Linked DNA regions of Homo sapiens: region 2 is linked to region 1. The links come from fine-mapping of genetic effects on gene expression. A gene starts in region 1. The other region holds a variant in brackets. All regions are shown on one strand. Distances are between the middles of the regions.

What was found.
Region 2: its variant is fine-mapped to the expression of CCDC15-DT in cerebellar hemisphere (GTEx, PIP 0.96).

Annotation. Positions count from the first base shown.
Region 1 is chr11:124,950,691-124,959,034 of GRCh38, reverse strand. CCDC15-DT (CCDC15 divergent transcript) reads left to right here and starts at 5,044. Exons shown (of 3, transcript XR_948134.3): 1 at 5,044-5,553; 2 at 7,485-7,696. CCDC15 (coiled-coil domain containing 15) reads right to left here and starts at 4,833. Exons shown (of 16, transcript NM_025004.3): 1 at 4,665-4,833; 2 at 4,126-4,311. The coding sequence starts at 4,302. RefSeq lists an enhancer at 4,630-5,173.
Region 2 is chr11:125,032,171-125,040,514 of GRCh38, reverse strand. CCDC15 (coiled-coil domain containing 15) reads right to left here. Exons shown (of 16, transcript NM_025004.3): 14 at 1,911-2,084; 15 at 1,446-1,594. Among named protein-coding and RNA genes, the nearest start is that of SLC37A2, 27 kb to the left of the region's middle. The variant A/G (reference allele first, on the strand shown) is at 4,364.

The sequences.
Region 1 (8,344 bases):
GGATAAGGATACAATCCTGAAAAAAATAATTCCATTCTGTACAAAAAAAAATGGAATGTATGAGTATCAAATCTTAAATTTTTTATTGAATTAGAACTAACGATGTCTTCATTAAATCTTAATGAACCAAATAAAACCTAACACGTTACACATTTTCTAAAATGGAGTAAATAGTCAAGACACACCAGGTTACTTACCACTCACCAAATATGTCCTATTGTTAAAATGTCTTCATATTTGGCATTATGCTCCATTTTTAACCTGGCATGCCCTTCCTTTCATCTCCACCTAGTAAAGGCCTATTCAGTTTTCACAACCATTTAATACCCACTCCCCAGTACCTTCCACAACACTCTCTCTCTAAGCCCTCTTATGCTATAACACCTCTCATTTCACCAATGTTAACTGAGTATAGTACTTCTTGACTCCCCTACTAGATTATGAACTCTTTGAGGACAGGATATGTATTCAATTCTCCTTTATTTCCCCTACGGCATCTAGTACAGAGCCTTCACTATAAGGGTAGTCAATATATATTTATATAATTGCTCAATTCCAAAACATATTCTAAACCAGGGGTGTCCAATATTTTGGCTTCCCTGGGCCATGTTGGAAGAACTGTCACATAAAATACATTAACACTAGTAGCTGATGAGAAAAAAAAAAATCACAAAAAAACTCATAGTGTTAATTAAGAAAATTTATTAATTTACATTGGGTCGCATTCAAAGCCATCCTGGGCCACATGTGGCCCATGGCCGCATGTTGGACAAGCTTGTTCTGAACAATCTGGAACACTTTATCCCATTTGAGTTCTTGATCTGCATTTATCTCCTCTAAGTGCTTTGAATAATAATCATAGTCATCATCATAACAGCACTTATCATTATTATGGATCTATCAGGTGACAAGTATTTTAACTACTTTGTAGCACTCTATCCTCAAAACCACCTTTGGCAGTAGGTATTCTTATCCCTTATGTTACAGATGAGGAAGCTGGAGTTCAGAAAGATTAAGTAATTTTAATATAGCTAACTAGTAGCAGAATTAGAAGTTTCTGACTCCAACAATTATGTTCCTCTCTACACTGCTTTTCTCTTGACTATGTCTCTCTTTCACTAGGAATTTTCAAATTAAATAAAATCATCATCATATCTCGTACCTATTCCTTCTAACTCAGTGATTCCAACTTCTAATTCTGAAGGGTACCTCAGATCATTTTACAGGCTGTCATTAAATTCTCAAAATCAAATGCATTCAAATTTCAATTTAAGTTAAAATTTCCAAGATGTCTATCCCATAAACTACTCTAGTGGAGTGTACAAGTGTCAAAGAACAATTAGGTAAAATAATTCCAACGGAGAGATATATACGTAATGAAGCCTGAACAACTGACCCAGCTTAACTCAAGCCCCAGACAAGTTTAAGCCATTCGGCCTCTTTCTTTTACCTCCATTTTCTCTGCTCCTCTTTTACTCCACAAGATTACAAGCCAGGTCATAAAGAAACTTCCACCTCTGTTCTTAGAGTGCTCATTCTGAAGGAAGTCAGCACCATATAAAAATTCAGACTACCCTGAGATTACCATGCTGTGAGGAAGCCCAAGTTAGTCAAACAGAGAAGCCATGTGAAAAGAGAAACATATCTAACCAGCACCCAGACATTCTAGTCATCCTAGGCCAAGCGTCAGATATGTGAATAAGAAAGCCATCTTGGACATTACAGCCCAGCAGGTGCCACATTACTGGGAGAACTTGACTATTGTCTAGCTCCAGCCAATAGCCGGAAAATAGTCAAGGTGTCTCAGACATGTCCAGTTATTTGAGCCCCAGCTGAGGTCCCAGACACTATGGGGCAGAAACAAGCCATTACCACTGTACCCTGCTCAAATTCCTGTTACATAGTATTATTTGCTTTATACCACTAAGTTCTGGGGTGGTTGGTTACACAGCAAAAGGTAACCAGAACAAATTATAAAATAATGCAATCCCATATATGATGATAGAACAGCAGTGTCTTTTGATGCTAATTTATTAATAATTATTGGGGGGAGGTAGTCTAAAGCTATGACATTTTTAGGAATCCTGATGGCCCCCTGAAATTTTGGGGAGAAAAATGAGTAGAAGTTCCCCTTTAGAACAGACATGATCTAAGGGCCAAGCTTTAGAAGTAACTATTCAGCATTTATTTTGAGCTGACAGAGCTATATCCGTTAATAAGGGTGGATACCCAGACTAGATATGCTAAAGCTATAAGGAGTTCTATTAGATGCTTGATCAAACTCCCTTTGGCTGGAACTGATCAGAAATTTTTAAATCAGGAAAAGGAGATATGTTTATCCATGTTCCAAGACTTTAATATTTTGAGTTAATGTGTGTGAATACGATAGTCAATACTTCTTAACATAGAAAAAGTTTGATGGTGTCAAATTTTAGGCATGTTGACACTACTGATATTATACAGATGTAATTTGAGCAATTACAAAGAGGTGTCAACAACTTAAATACCAAAATATCTTTATACCAAATCTTACCAAGTCTTGTGGGGTGTTTCCTGCATTCATCCCTTCTCATTCCACTCCTTTTTTTTTTCCAGAGATGGGGTCTCACTCTATTGCCCAGGCTAGAGTGCAGTAGTATGATCATAGTTCACTGCAGCCTACAATTCGTGGGCTCAAGCACTTCAATCATCCTTTTTCAAGGCTGTTCTTCTCTATTTCTTACCACTAACAAAGTTTCGATGCTATACTCCATGCTTAAATTATTATAATTATATTCTAATTTATCCCCAGGATCCAATCACTCCCTATCCTTCAAAACCTTTGAAGCAATTCATCTAAAGAAAACACTGGTTGATCATGACATTCACCTGTAAATATTAAACAAAGTCAATCCCTTCTCCAAAATTTCCTAAGGTACTCTACCATCCCTATTTTCCATAATCCTGTCAGCAACCATTCTCCTACTAAGCTTTCCACTCCAATCGATCTAATCTACCCTTAGAATCCTGAACCTTGCTTACTTCTTACTCTCCTCATTCTCCTTAATAGGAGAATCATTCCCTTCCCTTCTCCGATCAAATTCTTCATTACACTTTCCTGGGTCACATCAACCCAACGTCATAGCTTCTTGATTGAGCATTATATTCTTAGAACTTAGATAGAGATACCACCTAGACTCTTAAAATCCTTTTTGGAAATAGGCAGGGTAGGAATAAATCAATGAATATACATACATATGTGCAAACATAAATAAAATGAATATAGTATATTGCATTACTTTAACATTTAAACACATCTCATTTCTCTTCTGAGATCAAGTACACTGAGGGAACATATCTCATCCTTTTTTCATCCATGTTCAGCACCTTGTCTACACATACAGAAGACATTTTGTGCCTTTCATAAATACTTCATGAGTGTCTATATTGATTAGGCAGTATTTAAGATAAAAGTGGGAATGTGATGATAAATGACATTTGTTCTCTACGCTCAAGGAGCTCACACTGCATCAGGAAAAGATATATAAACAATCTACTATAACACAATGTGGTAAGTGCCAAGTTAAATTTGAACAAATAGCTAAGGGGCACAGTTTGGTGAAAGACTATCAGAAACCATGGAATTTCTAGTTAGACTTTCTCAGATTATCAGAGTTCATCTCTTTCTCCTTTATTCTATTACTCCATTTTGCCTGAATCCTCATTACAAAATTTATCATAAACCTTAAGCAACCAATTAATGTTACTTGAAGTATGCCAACTATCATCCATACTAAGTTGCAGTGTCTGGAAGATGTAGATAGTGCTTATGTCTTGGGCATAACAAGCAATCAAGAGTCTGAAGTAAACTGATATACAGATATATATCTATATAACCTGTTCCATGTAGATTATGCTCTATATATTATAGTAGGTGAGTAATAAATATTTGATTATGCCAACTAAAGCTGCAGTCAAGTTTTGGCAAATACTTGTTCTATAATCCTAATGCAAGAGCATAAACTATTTATGGCAGAATAGAAACAGCATCCTCGGACTGTTCATCTTTAAGCACCCAGGATTAGAGAAGGCTAATAAAAAGGGTGGTGGGGAACCCCACCATATTTGGATCAAACTGACACTCACATATGCTGGGATTTCCGAACTACCTGGTGAGGCAGGTTCCACCCATGCCCCAACTGGTACTATAGCCTCGTTCCTCTCAGCCAGCACTGCCAACACGTCCTTGCTCTTCAGGGGGTTTAAAGCCAGGGGCAACCTTGAGGTATTTCGAGGTTTCTTTCGGGCCATACTTCCCAGCATCTGTGACTCCTGATTAGGAGAAAGAAAAAGCTTAAAATCTTCAAATGACTGCATTAAAAGTTCAACCTCCTAACACATGAGCCACAGGCCCGTGAAAAGGAGAGAAGCCCTGGAGGCAGAAGCCTGGCATGAAGTGGAAACACACGGATTCTAGAGAAAAAGGAAGAAAAGAAGGGAAGAGAAATGGGAAGAAATAAAGAGGCAAAGAAAGGTTTTTAAGTTGCCTTCTAGAAGAAATGGCGATGAGAGGGAAGAGAAAGGATGGGAATGAGAGAACGAAGACTGTCCTCAGCTGTGGGCGCAGCGAGGCGGGAAGGGAGGAATGACAGCTGCAACCCGGAGAAAGAGGGAGGGGCGGGGACCTGTGTCTGCAGCCGAGAGTCCCAATAATCGGTATAGGTTATGGGAAGACGCGCTGAACGGCTGGGAGCCTCGGGCCAGATAAAAGCCTGCTTCTGAGGCCCCGAGGCCTGCTCCGGCTGAGATGGCACTGGCCAGGAATCGGCCCGCAGCTCGCCACAGACTCAGTCTACTCGGAGTACTAAGGTAACCGCCTCAAGTAGACCGCCACTTTGCGGTGGGCTGCTCCGTCCCGCCCATCCGTAGCCTTATGCCCGCCCTTTCCGGAGCCCGCGTCCCCTCCCGGAGCTGGGAAGGCGTGAGAGGTGGAGTTTCGAGCGCCCGAGGTATCGTCATTTCCTCTTCCTGTCCGGCTGAGGGGGCGGGGACGTGTGGGTAAGCGGAGTCGCTGGGTAATGCGCCATGTGAGGCGCGGTGGGACTGTCGTTCCTGGACCAACGCCGAGACTTCCTAAATCCCTCCGGAAAGGGATGCGTTGGGCCTGTGATCTGGCGACTAGGAGGGTCAGGAGTCCCAGTAGAGGGAATCACGGGAAAAGAATGAAAGAGGGAGGCGAGCCTGGCACGGCTTCCTGGAGAAACAAACTAAGCTAACAAATTTTTCGGATCCTTTGTGCAGCTAATTTTACAGTACTGTTTCATACATCTTATTATATTTGGACATCACGGCCTGTTGAGTGGTCTCCCTCTCTGCTGCAAGCTCTGCTGTAATCCAGAGACACTCAATTATCTCTGTAGGATAATTTATTCATTCGATTAACATACATTACTACTAACTTTTTATAAACCAGTACTGTTCCAAGCACCGGAGATACATAGCTATGAACGAAACAAATATCCCTGCTCAGGGAATTCACAATAGAGTGAGGGGAAATAAGCGAATAAACAATGAGTAAGTAAATGTGTGTGATGTGGAGTAAAAGCAAAGAAAGCGGATAGGGAGTGTGGTGGGCAGGGTGGGGATTGGAGGGATGAAATATTAGAACGTCCAGAGAAGCTGCACTGAGATACTTTTCAGCAAAGACTTAAATGAGTTAATGGAAGAAGCCACTGTGCTCTTCAACGGAGGCTTTATAAACATGTTCCAGATATAACAGCAAGTATAAACGCCCCAAGGTGGAAGCATTGCCTGGTTGAGAAAAAGTCAGGAGGATAGTGTGACTGGAGCAGAGGGAGAGTGGAAGAATGCTGAGACAGTAGGTCAAGCAGGCAATCCGATCAAACATCGTAAGCCACCATAGGTGTTGAGATGGGGAGCCACTGGAGCAAGGTTTGGAGCAAAGGAACACCATAATGTGACAAAATTAAAAAAATAATAATTCCGAATGCTGTAGTGAGAATAGACTGTAAAGAAGACCAATTAGGTGGCTATTGCAATAATTCAGTTAAGGGATTGTGATGTCTTGGATCAAGGAGGTAGTGGTGGAGATGATGATAAGTGGTTGGATTCTGTATCTATTTGGGAGGCAAAACTTTCAGGATCTGTTGAAGGTTTGGATATGGATTGTGTGAGGGAGAGATGTCAAGGAAAACTAGGGGTTTCATCCTGAGCAGCTGTCAGGATGAAATTACTATTTACTGAGATAGTGAAGATGGTGGAAGGAGTAGATTTGGAAAGGGGAAGATCAGGAGTTCAGTTTGGGGCAGATAAAGTTTTATCTAATCAACATCCGAGAAGATAGTATGAGAAAAAGTGTCTGGAGCTCAGAGAAGGGTTCTGGGCTACAAATATAAATCTAAGAGTCGTTAGCCTGTAGATTTAAAGCCATGAGACTGGATGGAGTCATCAAGGGGTTGAATATAGACAGATAAAAGAATAAATCCTAAAACAGCCCCAGGGTATGTCAGTATTACAGAGGCTGAGAAAAAGAGGAGGAGAATGCTAAGAGATTGAGAAGGATTAATCAGTAAACCAAGGAAGAAAACTATGAGGGTGTGATACCTTGAAAGCCAGGTGAAAAAGAAATGTTCCATTGAGGGCAGACAATCTGTGTTAAATCCTACTGACAGATCAAATAAGGTAAGGACTGAAAATTGACTATTGGATTTGACCATGTGGAAGTGATTGATAACTTTTAAAAGAGCAGTGTCTTTAGAGTAGTTGGAGAGCAAAAGCCTGATGGGCTAGGCAAGAAAGAGTAGGAGAAGGAATTGGAGACAGCAATTTTAGACAATTCTTTCCATGAATTTTGTTGTGAAGGGACACAGCGAAAGAGGTGGCTGAACGTAGAGGTAGGATCATTGGAGAGTTCTTTAAGATCATAGCATATATTTGTTATTGATGGAAATTAACCAATAGACAGGAGAAAACTAATGATGCGGGAGAGATATGGGAGAATTTAGGGATCTACAGTCATGTGTCACTTAAAGATGGGGATACATTTTGATAAATGTTAGGTGATTTTGTCTTTGTGCAAACCTCATAGAGGAAATGGAATTTAGTGAACAAGTGGAGGGATTGGCCTTAGATAGCAGGAGGTATGGTTAATTATAATAATAGCAGAAAAGTTAGAATACACAGTAAACTGATAATTAGGTAATGTGGTGGCAGGAGCTTATGGAAATTCTCTTCTGATTACTCTGTTTTCTCTGTAAAATAGTATTGTAGCCAACCTCCAAGATGGCCCCTAATGATCCCCACCTCTTGGTGTTCACACCTTTGTGTAGTCCCCTCCCACATTGTACCTAGGTTGGACTGTATGACCAACAGAATATGGCAGAAGGGATGGTATATTACTACAGAGGTTAGGTTATAAGAGATATGCTCACATGGGCTCGCTCACTCTCTCTCCCTCCCTCCTTCCCTCCCTCCCTCCCTCTCAGATCTCTTGTTCTGAGGGAAGCCATGTACATCATTAGCAGTTCTATAAAGAGGATCACATGGCAAGAAACTGAAACATTCTGCCAGCTGCCCTGTGAAAGAACTTGGAAGTAGACCCTCCAGCCCTAATCAAGTCTTCAGAGACTGTACTCAGCCAACAATTGACTGCAACCTCATAAGAGACCCTGAGCCAGACCGCCCAACGAGAAACTGTGTGAGATAATGTTTGTTGTATTAAGATGCTAAATTTGAGGGTCATTTGTTATACAATGAGAGAAGTAGGAGGTAAGGGACTATGAAAAGTTGGTAGAGTCAAGAAGTTGTAGGTTCCTGTGGTGGTCTAAAGTTTGTTAGAACAGGATACTCAAAAGAATGTGCTAAGATAAGAGGTGGTCTGAGAGTAGGCTGCTTGGAGCTGAGTGTATGCAGAGGTTGTGGTTATTGGTGCTGTCAAAGTCTATGGTATGACCAAAGGAGGGAAAGCTAAGGTGGGTTAAAGAACAAGATCACTGGAGAAGAGGTCATAGAAACCAAACACCAGAGCATTGATTGGATGATCCATGAGGATACTGAAATCACCAAAAAATATAACAAGAATGATGTTGGAGAAAGCCAGAAGCAACAATCTTGAAAAGGCTTGGAGGTTGGTGGGTAAGTATAGCTTGGAAACCCAAGCATGGTATATTCTGGTGACATGAGGTTCAAAGTTGGAGGTGAGGTTAAGAAAAAGGGAGGATGTGGTTTAGCAAAAGCACTGAGTAACTGAATAGCAAGAAGGAAACCCATCCCACCTCCACCCAGAGGGGCAAGGAACAGAAAACAGCTACTATTAGGTGAGTGCAAAAGTTATTGTGGTTTTTCA
Region 2 (8,344 bases), 81 kb before region 1:
CTGCTTCTCTACCAAGAGTCTTACAAGTAACTATCTATTGAATAAATATTTATTCAGTACTTACTATATGACAAGCACTCTGTGAGGACAGAAAAAATAATAAAGAGTATGGACACAAAAATAATTAAGTTGCCATGTAATACTTCCAAACCAAAGGTATATACAAAATGTCATCATAGGCCAGGCACAGTGGCTCACACCTGTAATTCCAGCACTTTGGGAGGCTGAGGCAGGCGGATCACTTGAGGTCAGGAGTTCGAGATCAGCCTGGCCAACATGGCAAACCCCCGTATCTACTAAAAATACAAAAATTAGCTGGATGTGGTGGCACAAACCTGTAATCCCAGATATTCGGTAGGCTGAGGCGCTTGAACCCAGGAGGCAGAGGTTGCAGTGAGCCGAGATCGTGCCACTGCACTCTGGCCTGGGCGACAGAGTGAGGCTGTCTCGGAAAAAAAAAAACAAAAACAAAAAAACAAACAACAACAACAAATGTCATCATAGAATGAAGTTGGGAATGAATGCACAACTACCTAGGACAGGATGGCAAAGATTCCCAGAAGTGGTTAACACTTAAGACGAGTTATGAAGAAATAACAAGAGTAAAGGAAAGAACACAGAGAACTGAGTGTGAGGTGCAAAAGGAGTAAACAATATGGCACATACTGGGAATAGCAACTTTGATAAGGCTAGAGTAGGGCCCAGAGCCAGAGAGAAAATATACCAAACATGCCATGCATCTTATACTGCAGTGGGTAGCCCTAGAGGTTTTAGAATAGGGAAATGGCATAATTAGATTTGTGTTTTTTAAAATAAAGCTGATAAGAAACTTGTATTATACAGATGAAGCACTAGGAATATATATACTGGCAGTATTCCTAGTGTATACATGAGGGCTACATAATCTTTATACTATATAAATCAATATATTTAAGGATGGATAGGAAACAGAAATATTAATGACAATATGAAGGACTAAGTTTTCTCTAGCTGGGACTCCTGATAGAGTTTATACTGTTTCTTATTTTTCTCAGTGCCTCCTGGCAGAACTAGCAATCTAATGTGGATATATATGGTAATACGTCCATGTTACATACCATTAAAGTATTTGAGTAATAGGGAATTCAACTGGATAGAGTCCTAACTTACATAAAAGGCAAATTCTAATAGTCTTCAGTTAAAGGACCTGAAACTCAAGACCTCCTACAGTAGAATGAGCTGAAAATATTTCCCCAGCATAAATGGAGACAAGAAGATAACAGATCTCAAAGAGAAATATAACTCATTATAATTTTTTCACTGCCTCATATAGTTATTTTGTAAAGGGTTTATAACAGTCTCTGATACATAGTAAGCACTCAATAAATGGTAAATTACTATTACCACTACTCTTATTTATTTTTCTTGTTGCCATTAGGCCCTGACTATTCCTTCAAGAAACTTACCTCTGTGGTTTTTATAGAAAATACAGTTGTTGGCACAGGTATCAGGATGAGCATCCCAAAAATCAGGACCACAACAGCATAGTGGAGGTAAAGTAATATTATACAGCTGCATTTTCTCCTGGATTTGGGCTCGTAAAGCTTCTACATATCTGTACAAATAAAGTATAATCAGGCAAAGTGAACTATTAAAAAGAAAGTGAGTATGAATCCTGATTTTACAGCCAGATTTAACTGTTAAATCTATTCCGTATCTCTGGGCCTTGACATTTCCTCTTTGTACTGGGAAAAACGCAGGGCTACACCCAAGAAGTATTAGGCAATCAAAAAATTTGGTGAAGTTATGAACTCCTAAATGAGGAAAAGTATGAAAAGACACAGTCAATTCTCTTCTAAGGAAAATGAGAACAATGAGTTCTACCAAGTCTCTTCTAGAGCCAAAATATCATGAAGACCTTTTCAAATTACCTCAGGTATTCTTTTTCTCTCTGTTGTTTTTCTCTGGTTCCTTTTATTTCTTGAAGTTGTAACTGGGCTAATATCTCACTCAACTTCTCTCCTGAATATGGATCTTCATGAAAGTTCATTCTTAGGATCCTCTGCTCTGCAGCATAACATTCTTGCTCTCTCTTTTTCTTAATTCTGAAAATAAAATCATAACATGGTTAGGAATTTCATAAAATTATTATTTAAAATTAGCTTCTTTATCCAAATAACTCCCAGAAATTCCCAGAAACTAAGGAGTCAGGAAATCAGTTTAATATCCCAAGAATATCCTCAAAAATTTCTGCTGGCTGCTTTATCTCCTCCCAAAGAGAAATGAGCAATGGCTACTATTAAAAGAGTTCTTCCTGGCTAGGTGCGGTGGCTCATGCCTGTAATCCCAGCACTCTGAGAGGCCGAAGCAGATGGATCATATGAGGCCAGGAGTTTCAGATCAGCCTGGCCAACATGGTGAAAACCCATCTCTACTAAAAATACAAAAATTAGCCAGGCAGTGGTGGCACGGGCCTGTAATCCCAGCTACTCAGGAGGCTGAGGCCAGAGGATCACTTGAACTCAGGAGGCAGAGGTTGCAGTGAGCTGAAATTGCACCACTGCACTCCAGCCTGGGCAACAGAGCCAGACCCCATATCTCAAAAAAAAAAAAAACAGTTTTTCTGTAAGAATGTAGCAAAACAGTCTTTTCAGATTGAAACTACAAGTAAACAGGGATTCTGCTTCTGACCAAAACAGAGTAACAGGGACCGCATTTGCCCTCCAACCTTAAACCACCAAAAAAATTTAAAAAGTTTTAAAAAGTACACAAATCAAACAAATACAAGAAATGATGGTTTTCAAGACATTGGACACCAGGTAACAAACAACACTGCTCCTTGACAGATGGGAAACAAGTGAAGTAAACCCTATAACTGCTAGAGATTACTGCCTTGGAAGGTTCCAGGCAGTGGCACAGGGCAGGGAAATTGAAGTGAAGCCTGATGGGCTCTAAGAATTGAAGAGATGGAGTTAAGAGTGCAGAGAGACAAAGGCAGTTAGAGTTCACAGGACAAAGTACCAGAGAGAAGAAAGCTGCCCAGAGACAGCACCCCAGAAATGAACAGAGAGTCTCCTGGTACACAGCAGAGCACTGATTGGTGCATGTATGCAATGAAATAACCTGAGGCTAGGAAGAGAACAATCCAAAATAAAAGAGAACAGTGACTAGAGTCCACCTAGCTCCAGGAATAATTTGTCCTTATTTCCACCAATCAAACTTGAAAAACTTGTATTTCACAGAACATTAGGTAGAGTATTCAGAATGATCTTATCTGAGCAGTAGGGAATAAACACTAGTCCCAGACTGAGTACTGCACCAGACCCACCTAACAAGTTATAAAAGCAAGTCATCAAATGAACTTGACTGTATACCAAAACCAGGTTCAATAATGTAAAGACATCCAGCAACTAACATGGTAAAACTCATAACGTTGGGCATCTAACCAAAGATTACTAAGCACACAAAGAGGCAGAAAAAAAGCCCAGACTCCAGTGAACATCCACAAGCATCAAGACTACTCAGGAAATATGACCTCACCAAAAGAACTAAATAAGTCACCAGTGACTAATCCCAGAGAGACACAGATGTGTGACCTTTCAGACAGATAATTCAAAATGGCTGTTTTGAGGAAACTCAAAGAAATTCAAGAGAACACAGAGAGGAATTCAGAATCCTATCAGATAAATTTAATAAAGAGATTGAAATAATTTAAAAGAATCAAGTAGAAATTCTGGAGTTAAAAACTGCAACTGAAATACTAAAGAATGCATCACAGTCTGTTAATAGTGGAATTAATCAAGCAGAAGAAAGAATTAGTGAGCTTGAAGACAGGCTATTTGAAAATACACAGTTATAGGAGACAAAAGGAAGAAGAATAGAAGAGAATGAAAGTATGCCTATGATACCTAGAAAGTAACTTCAAAAGGGCAAATCTAAGAGTTTTGGGCCTTGAGGAGGAAATCGAAAGATGAGGGTAGAAAGTTTATTCAAAGGGATAATAACAGAAAACTTCCCAAACCTAGAGAAAGATATCAATATTCAAGTGCAAGAAGGTTACTGAGCAGATTTGACCCAAATAACATTAACTCAAGACATTCAATAATCAAACTCCCAAAGGTCAATAATAAAGAAAGGATTCTAAAAGTAGGAAAAGAAACAAATAACATATAGTGGAGCTTCAATATGCCTAGCAGCAGACTTCTCAGTGGAAGCCTTGCAGGCCAGGAAAGAGTGACATAATATATTGAAAGTGCCAAAGGAAAAAGAACTTTTATTGCAGAATAGTATGTCTGGTGAAAATATTATTCAAACATGAAGGAGAATTCAAGACTTTCCCAGACAAACAAAAGCTGAGAGATTTCATCAACACCAGACCTATCCT[A/G]TGAGAAAGCTAAAGGGAGTTCTTTAATCTGAAAGAAAAGCACCTTAATAAAAAATAAGAAATTATCCGAAGGCACAAAACTCACTAGTAATAGTAAGTACACAAAAAGACAGAATATCAAAACACTGTAATTGTGGTGTGTAAGCTACTCATATCTTGAGTGGGAAGACTAAAAGATGAACTGATCAAAAATAATAATTACAACTTTTCAAGACATAGTACAATAAAATATAAGTAGAAACAATAAAAAGTTAAAAGTAGGGGCATGATGTTAAAGTGTAGAGTTTTTATTAGTTTTCTCTTTACTTGTTAGTTTGTTTATGTAATCACTGTTAAGTTGTCATCAGTTTAAAACAACAGGTTATAAGATATTATTTGCAAGCCTCATCGTAACTTCATATTTGGAAACATACAACAGATAACACAAAATATAAAAAGCAATAAATTAAAACATGTCATCAGAGAAAATCACCTTCACTAAAAGACAGGAAAGAAGAAGAAAGAAGACCATGAAACAACCAGAAAAAAAAGTAACAAAATGGCAGAAGTAAGTCCTTACTTAACAATGATAACATTGAATGTAAATAAACTAAACTCTCCAAACAAAAGATGTTGAGTGGCTGAATAGGTTACAAAATAAGATCCAACAATTCCTTGCCTGCAAGAAACATACTTCATCTACAAAGACACATATAGGCTGAAAATAAAGAGATGGAAAAAATATTCCATGCAAATAGAAACCAAAAAAGAGCAGGAGTAGCTATACTAATATCAGACAAAATAGATTTCAAGACAAAAACTATAAAAAAAGACAAAGAAGGTCATTGTGATGGTTAATACTGTCAACTTGATTGAATTGAAGGATGTAAAGTATTATTCCTGACTGTTTCTGTGAGGGTGTGGCCAAAAGAGATTAACATTTGAGCCAGTGGACTGGAAAAGGCAGACCCACCCTTAATCTGAGTGGGCACAATCTTATCAACTGCCAGCGTGGCCAGAATAAAAACCAGGCAGAAGAACGTGAATAGACTAGACTGGCTTAGCCTCCCAGCCTACATCTTTCTCCCATGCTGGATGCTTCCTGCCCTCCAACATCAGACTCCAAGTTCTTCAGCTTTGGGACTCAGACTGGCTTCCTTGCTCCTCAGCTTGCAAATGGCCTATTTTGGGACCTTGTGATTGTGTGAATTAATACTCCTTAATAAACTCCCATATATATATGAGAGTTTATATATATATAACTATGCATATATATAGTTCTGTCTTTCTAGAGAATCCTGAGTAATACAGATTTTGGTACCAACAAATATTAAGGATGGAGTTCTTTTGTTGGTTTTGGGGTTTCTGGAGTTGGCTGCTAAATATGATTAGACTCCAAAATGTTAAGGACTCTACTTCTAATAGTATGGAGAACACTATGGTCCCTGGCACGAACTGTTTAGAGAGTTATGCAAAATAAATGCATTTGACACTCCTGATTCACTGCTCATGAAAGGCAAGGAGTTTAGTGACCCTGTACATAATAACTTTGACCATATGTGGAGAACCAAGGAACATAATGAAGTTGGTTGGTTGCTCCTAAGTTCACTGGACAAAGTGATGAAAGAAAATGATGAACTCAGGGATGCTAACTCCTGGCTTCAGAAGCAGACACTGAGCCTCAAATCTTCTAAGATTGCCCTGAGTAAGAGTCTTATCTCCTGAAGAGAAAGAGATGAAGCTGTGGAAAACCAGACACAAGCTTTTATCACGCGAGTGGCTGGCCTGCAATGAAAGGTGCATGCACAGCCTTGCCAGGTGTCTACTGTTAAAATGAGGGCATTGATTGGAAAAGAATGGGACCTTGCAACTGGGAATGGGGATATGTGGGAGGACCCTGATGACACTGGGGACACTGAGCTTGTAAACTCTGATGAATTTTTTTTGCCGGAAGAAACAGCTTTCTCATCCCCAGTAGTGGCAACATCCCCTCCCCGACCCACATTCCTATCAACCTTTCCACCTTTGTCTGAGGGGATAAACCCTGTGCTGCCTGAGGCAACAGTGATGGCCTCCCCTGAGGCAGTTGCCAGGCAACATAAGTTGATTCTCCTCAGGAGCTATCCCCAACACCTCTGTTTGCTTCTAGACCTATAACAAGACTAAAGTCCTAGCAGGCTCCTAGAAGTGAGGTTCAGAGTGTGGCCATGAGGAGATGTGCTACACTCAAAAAGAACTGCTTGAGTTCTCTAATTTATATAAGCAGAAATCTTGAGAAGAGTCATGGGAATGGATATTAAGGTGTGGGATGATGATAGAAGGAACATAGAGTTTGATCAGGTGAATTTGTCGATTTGGGCCTACTAAATAGGGATTCTACATTTAATGTTGTAGCTCAGGGAGTTAAAAAAGATTCTAATAGTTTGTCTGCTTGGTTAGCTAAAATATAGCTTTTTAAAAGATGGCCCACTGTGAGCGAGCTGGAAATGCCTGATTTCCTCCCTTGGTTTAGAACGGGATCCAAAGGTATAGAGAGATTGGAATGGTGGAGTGGATTAGTCACTTTAGACCTTCTCATTCCAGCTGGGAGGGTCCAGAAGATATATCCTTAACCAATGCTTTCCAAAATAGATTTGTGAGGGCAACACCTACATCTTTGAAGAGCTCTGTAAGGATTGCTCTTCAAGATCTTGATGTATGCCAGATCTAACAATGGGAACCCCAGTCACTCAACCACAAAATTTAAATGCAATGGAAATAATTGGATCCCGAGATGGCAGGGCCAAGTGGCAGCACTCAACCATCAAAGGCAAGATGGGCACGGCTACCATAATGGACAGCAGAGGCAAAGCAACAATCAGAATCGTTTGACTTATGCAGAGCTCTGGCACTGGCTAATTAATCACGGTGTTTCTAGAAGTGAAATTGATAGGAATCCTACTGCATTCCTACTTAATTTATATAAGCAGAAAAATTCCAGGTCAAGTGGACAAAAGACTAATTTTAAATATAAAAACAGAGAATCATGGCCCCTCAATCAATATCCAGACTGGAGCCAGTTTATAGACTCAGAACCTCTTGAATGAAGGGGAAGTCTGCTCCCCTTGAGGAAGGACCCCACTATACTACCAACAATTTATGCTATAAATCTTTCTCCCATCCTTCCCCAAGGAGACCTCCGGACTTTACCAGGGTAACTGTGCACTGGGAAAAGGGAAACAATCAGACGTTTCGGGGACTACTGGACACTGACTCTGAGCTGACACTGAATCCAGGGGCCCAAAACATCATTGTGGTCCTCCAGTTAAAGAAGGGGCTTATGAAGGTGAGGTAATTAATGGAGTTTTAGCTCAGGTCTGACTTACAGTGGGTCCAGTGGGTCCCCAGACTCATCCTGTGGTCATTTCCCCAGTGCCAGAATGCATAATTGGCATAGACATACTCAGCAGCAGGCAGAACCCCCACATTGGCTGATTGGTAGGGTGAGGGCTATTACGGTGGGAAAGGCCAAATAGAAGCCATTAGAGCTGCCTCTACCTAGAAAAATAGTAAATCAAAAACAATATTGCATCCCTGGAGGAATTGCGGCAATTAGTGCCACCATAAGGACTCGAAAGATGCAGGGTTGGTGATTCCCACCACATCCTCATTCAACTCTCCCATTTGGCCTGTGCAGAAGACAGATGGATCTTAGAGAATGACAGTGGATTATCATAAGCTTAACCAAGTGGTGACTTCAACTGCAGCTGCTGTACCAGGTGTGGTTTCATTGCTTGAGCAAATTAACACATCTTCTGGTACCTGGTATGTGGCCACTGACTAGGCAAATGCCTTTTTCTCCACTCCTGTGCATAAGGTCCAACAGAATCAATTTGCCTTCAGCTGGCAAGGCCAGCAATATACCTTTACTGTCCTACCTCAGGGGTATATCAACTCTCCGGCTTTGTGTCATAATCTTATTCAGAGAGACCTTGATCACTTTCCACTTCCGCAAGATATCAC